Homo sapiens: one gene and its partner. The protein of the gene in region 1 purifies or fractionates together with the protein of each later gene. This does not show direct contact. Each region holds a gene or a part of one and is shown on either strand. Other genes may lie near its edges.

Region 1 (2,727 bases):
ATCTTTGTTGAAAGGCATATTGTGTATTGTCACTAATTCTGGGAAGGCGGGGGCCATTGGTTTTCATGAAGTGTGACTATGAAACATGAAAATCACACAAGGCAATCTTGATCTGAGGAATGCTTCTAAGAGAAAATGAATACACCTGCCCTATAGGCCCGCTTCTCTACCAAGCACACGGAGATGTCCACTTATTCTTGCTGGCACCAAATGGTGATATTCAAAAGAGCTGGCATAATTTTTTAGAGTTGCTAAGTATATAAAGCACTAACTTTATCAATTTTGTTAATTATACTTCACTTCATCTCTGTCTTATCAATTAGCTAAATAAAAACAGCATCAATTCATGAATATCATGATAATAAAAAAATTCAGGTAAATATTCAAAAAAGTCAAGTGTTAGCTGTACATATTATTGTAACTATAAAGGAAGGGAAAATATATCTTTATTTTATGAAAGCCAGTAAAATAAATCAAACTTCTCTTAAAATATTTGGTAAGGAAAAACTAACAACGTGTTTCTTTTTAAAATAAACTTCTAAATTTTGGAACAATATTAGGCTTACAGAAAAATTGCAAAGATGCTAAAGAGAGTTTTTCACACACCCATCTCTCAGTTTGTTTCTTCTAATATATTCATCCTTCATTAGCATACATACTTGTCAAAATAAGAAACCAAAATTGATACATCACTGTTAAACTATTCAGATTTTGCCATTTTATTCAGATTTTATTATCTTTTCTGTTAGTATTACTTTATGTTCCAGGGTCCAATCCAATATACCGTACTCCATATAGGTATCTTGTCTCTTTGACAAGCTTTGATCTGATATTTCTCAGTCTTTACTTGTTCATAACTGTAAGGGTTTTTTAATGAAGGGAAATAGGGTTTACAGAGCTGCAGAACAATTGTTATTTTTAAAATGCTGTTTATCAAGAAGGATTTTTGTTTCCTGATCCTGGTCAATGTGATGTTTTAGCAAACAGTGAAATACACTGGCTTATTAGTCTCAAATAAAAATTGTTAATCACAATCTAGAATTCACCTGTACAAGGTTTGTAGTGGACAAAAAATTAAAATAAGGACAAAAAGGAAAATTAAGAATGTGCTGTGAAGAAACTTAAAAGGCAGACTGAGAAATCTGGAGTTTACTCAACATTGGAAACCACTAGACACCTGGAGCACAGAAGTCATTTATATTAATCCTCACTTGCCTGTAGTTGTTAGTTGCCTCTGGCCACTCTGAATAACCCGGGTAGATCCAGTACTCCCACCTCTTGTACTGATGCAAGAGACTAGAAGCTTCTCCAGATACTGTATTAGCAAAGGGGAATTATAAAAGACTTATATTATCTAAGCAATACTTTGAAAGACCGGCAGATTACAAAGATGGTCGAAAACAAACAGGATCAAATGGAACAAGGATAAAATAAAGTTCTACATCTACGTTTATGGGAAAAATCAGTTACATAAATGGAGGATGGGGGATACTTAATCTGATAATCAATACTTCACATGAAAAAGTTTACAAAGTTTTGTGACCTCAATTTCAATATGAGTCCTGAGGGTCATATGTTCACTAAAAATTCAGTCCCCGTCTGGAGAGGTGTCAATCTCACCATAGTACATGGGACTCAAACTCATTCGTGGTTTATTGAAAGGTGAGTATGTGAGGAATACTGTGCTAAACCCTATTCCAATACTTGAAATCAGAATTAGAGGTGTTTTAAAGCATTGGAAAATAAAAGAAAAGCACAATGAAGAAATTCAACATTATGCTTTTACTTCCTATTAACTCGAGTTAACTTATAAAAGAGTTTATAAAAGAGTTGTAATAACAATGCCTAGAGGAGGACTCTCCCATCCCTGATCACAACCCCATTTCAGAAACTTCTTCTACGGGGACACTTCGACAGTAGATTTTTGATGAACTTTATATCCAGTCATTTAAAAAATTATTACAACAAGATACTTATACTGTTTAGGCACAAATAGATATGCACATTATATTAAAACTTTTAATAAGTATGGGCTAGCAAATAATGCATGATATCCTTGGTAATATCCTTTTGTAAATTTTATTAAGTAACATACAGCAATAAAGTTAGATCCCACATCTTGAGCAACAGTTGGATCCATATCTGGAGATAGAATCTTCACTGTCTTCAGAGTTCTGGTTGTCGGGTGACAGTAGGGAGCTAAATTTCTGAAAATCATACTGACATACCCTGTATCCATCTCCCTGTCCAGATAAATAAAGTTATATATAATATGGGCTAAGAAAAAAAGCATTTAAATAAATATATTGATGGCAATGCTTAGCCACAGAATGCAATTTACAGGTGTAAGCAGTCCAGCATTATCTAGCCAGCATTTTAGTCATATTCCTTCTAGTCTTGTTTAAACAAGCAAATATGGCTGATATTTTTGATACTGTTATATAACATAATATTTTTATTAAGTTAGAAATATTTTTTCTTTCATTAACTCTATTTAGATCACTTTATTTCAATTTCTGCATAGTTTTCCATGTAACATATGAGCTACAATTTATTTGACCAGTGCCCTGTTTGCGAAAGTTGAGCATATTTTGCTTATTTCCTTTCCTTGTTTCTGTATTTATAAGTAAAAGTGTCTATCTGCACAAATCTTTCCGAATCAGAATGGTTGCAATATTTTTAGGATTTGTAATACATATTTTCAAAATTTTTTTCTGGCAAGGCTGA
Region 2 (3,500 bases), on another chromosome or scaffold:
AATTCATAGCATTTATTGACATTTCCATTTAAAATGCTAGGAAAGCTGTATAAATTGTAAACATGGAAACCAAATACTTGCATAAATTATTTCAAAAACTCTACAGCACATTAGAAAACAGTGCAGCTATTGAAGGATAGAAACATAAAACCGACAAATAGAAGGGAGGGGCCGATTATTAAATCGTATACCCATACTGAGATTTCAGTGCCTGTTTGAGGACCAGCAAACCATGATTGTCAAGTTTAAGTTGCAGTATTGATGCCACAGTTGGCCTCAATTTGCTCTGCACATTTCGTACATTAACGCTCATAATCTAGGGATGAGTGTGCAGGAAGAGCCAGAAAAACATGGACCTTGACAAAGGAGGGAGAGACAAGTCAGTACTCCAGGGCAGCTCTGCCGAGCAACCTTTCCTATTAACGCTAGCCAGACTCCCTGCGTCCCAGAGATGCTCCGGAGGAGGGCAAAGTCGAGGGCGTTCCCACTCCCCTTTTCTGAAACAAGTCCTCTGGTGCTTAGAGCAACTGAATGAATGGGTGGAGCCTCAGTTCCTCTAGTATCTCCCTCTTCTTTCCCCACATTTGCAGGAGGAACAGTACAGCATATGCGACTTGAACTTGGCCCTGTACTATTCCCAACTTGTACACTTAGGGAGTCAAGTTATGAATACTTGAAATCTGGTAAGTACAGGAAAGACTATTCGTGATGCTCCAAGTAGCCCAGAAAGGTTCTGTGTAATCAGGGACTGCAAGAGACTCAAGTCACTCAAAATTTCACCTCTGTCCCTTTTACCTATTCCTTTTTTTTTTTTTTTTTTTTCCAGAGACAGGACCTCACCCTGCAGCCCAGGCTGGAGTGCAGTGGCGTGATTATAGCTCACTGCAGCCTCCAACTCATTGGCTCAAGCGATCCTCCAGTCTTAGCCTTTCGAGTAGCTGGGACTACTGGCACATGCCACCATGCTCAGCTAATTTTTAAATTTTTTTTGTAGAGACGGGGTCTCGTTATGTTGCCCAAGGTGGTCTCAAACTCCTGGCCTCAAGCGATCCTCCTGCCTCAGCCTCCCAAAGCGTTGAGATTAGAGGCTTGAGCCACCATGCCCAGCCTATTCACTCTTTCTTTAGAAATGTGAAGTGACCCCTGAAAAACCTGGAGGAAGAAGGAAAAGGAAGGATCCTGGATAATTATCTACCCTGTGGGAAGCCATTTTAACTATACTGCATTAAGACATTCATTGCTTCTGTCACTTTCTTACTGGCTCCTAACTTTGTTTCATGTTTCCAAAGGCATTTAATATTCTTTTCCTAAATTTCAATGCTGCTGTGTTTTAAGATAAATTATCAAGCCTACTGTCACACACACAAGCATGGACTTAGCAATGTACCATGATGTTGCGATTTCCAAGTCATCTTCATAGTGGAGAAAGTAGTCCTGTTTAAACACTGACAATCACCTCCACGAATATCAAAAGAAACCCGAAATGCACATCCTCCTTGTTCATTAGGTAACAAGTGTTAAGTCTATCATAGTTGATGAGTATGTTACAGCAGCTGCTCATAGAAACCCTGTTAGAACGTGTTAACATGTTAGATTAAATGTAAAAATGAAGTTCAGTTGACTATGCCATAGAAATGTGTTTTGTGTTCACATGCTCTGTCTGCCGGTACAGAAGTGGACTTCCTCCTGCTCCTGTCCAGGGCAAATGTGGATAAGCAGGCTCTAGTACTGGCGCTGGCACCTTGCTCCGGAGGTAGAAATGACCACGGTGAAAACTCCACTTGAGCTAAAGTTAGCGTGGGAGTTAAGACCGGAGTCCTCCTTCCCCTGTGCCCAAAACGTTACCCAGCTTTCCTTCCAAACGACAAATTCATTCATGTCTGAGAATCTAGTGTGAAAGGGATGAGAGAGACTTATATAACAACTAATTTGTGAATTACTGCCAATGCACTGCAAATCAGTGTCCGAATGACTGGCTTGGTCACTGGAACACTTAGAAAAAAGTTGTGCGAAAGAAGGAACGCTGAACCTGTCCACGGGAAACGGGAGACTCCTATAGCACAGAACCGCGTGCTGGCTTTAGCCCAAAGCCTTTAGCGCCTACCTTCACCCGTGCTTTGCCTCACAGTCCGCATGCCAGGAAAGATCTGGCCGGCAAACACCCACTGCTTAAAAGTCATCTGCCACCCAAATCAAAACACTATGAAATTAATAAAATTTGGAGAAAAATGTGTAGGTAGCAGTAAAGAAGCTGAATATATATATAGATAGATAGACAGATACATAGACAGACAGACAGATAGATAACCCACTATGCTCCACAAAGGATATGGCGTGGCCAAACGGCTGCTTGAGATCTGCTCTAAACAATGACCTCAGTGTCATTCTCATCATTTTCGTCCTCTTCCCTTGCCTCCCCCACACTGGAGTACTTCCTCTGTAGATCTTCACAGCCCTGGTCGTTTCCTTGCTGCATGACTGCAAAAGCATCCTTCCAGCACCTCTTCCTTCTCTTCTGAAACTCCCTCAATAGTGCAGTCGGGGATTCTGTCCCCATATCAAAGCAGATCAAGATCAAGTTCATTTCAGTGACAGCTTCACTCCTTCCCTACAGCCTTTCCCAGGCCCACTCTCAGCTCTTCCTTCCACGCCATTTGCCTGGGTAGCTGCCCTGCCTTCAAAGTCACTTCAGAAGTTGACGTCTCCCCAAGATATTGCATTTCCAAACATGCAACTTCTTCTGGGTGCCTAATTCATTTATGTCTTTTGAACAAATTTTTTTCTTTTTGAGACACAGTCTTGCTCTGTCGCCCAGGTTGGAGTACAGTGGTGCAATCTCAGCTCACTGCAACCTCCACCCCCCGGGTTCAAGCAATTATCGTGCCTCAGCTGGGACTACAGGCATGCGCCACCACACCCAGCTAGTTTTTGTATTTTTTTGTAGAGACGGGGTTTTGCCATGTTGCCTGGGCTGGTTTTAAGCTCTTGATCTCAAGTGATCCACCTGCCTCAGCCTCCCAAAATGCTGGGATTACAGGCGTGAGCCACCGCGCCTGATCTCTTCGAATGAATTTTATTGACACTTAAACCATGTTATTTATCGGTATCTTCCATCTTCTATACCCACTCGTGCTATCTTAGATTCTAAAATCTCAGAAGGCAAGGCTCATGTCTGCTGGGTTATTTGGTGCCAGAGACACCAGAAAGTCGGGAGCAGAAAGATGCTTAATAAATGCAATCGGAAAATTGGTGAAGGAAGTGAAATTAAAGCAAAATGGGAGTGAGGAAACTGAGTCACACCGAGCTTTCGGTTTTGCTCATTACCCATGTGTGAACCCATTCACCGCAGTAGTGCAGCGTTTCACATCACTCATCCTAGGGCGTCCACATAGACAGCATGCTACATTTTCACAGTGCTTTATGCTCCCTCCTCACAGGACATCTGCACACATGATCACATCTGATTCTCACAACTACGGTGCCTGGGAGGTGGCGGGGGA

What was found.
Region 2: the proteins of OR6A2 (region 1) and KIAA1549 purify together in Homo sapiens (affinity purification with mass spectrometry; one large-scale study listed by BioGRID and IntAct). This does not show direct contact.

The regions. Positions count from the first base shown.
Region 1 is NC_000011.10:6,791,236-6,793,962, forward strand, and holds the end of OR6A2 (olfactory receptor 6A2), read right to left. Parts: 3' UTR 501-2,727; downstream 1-500. UniProt on the Homo sapiens protein: Odorant receptor.
Region 2 is NC_000007.14:138,831,390-138,834,889, forward strand, and holds part of KIAA1549 (UPF0606 protein KIAA1549), read right to left. Parts: 3' UTR 1-3,500. UniProt on the Homo sapiens protein: May play a role in photoreceptor function.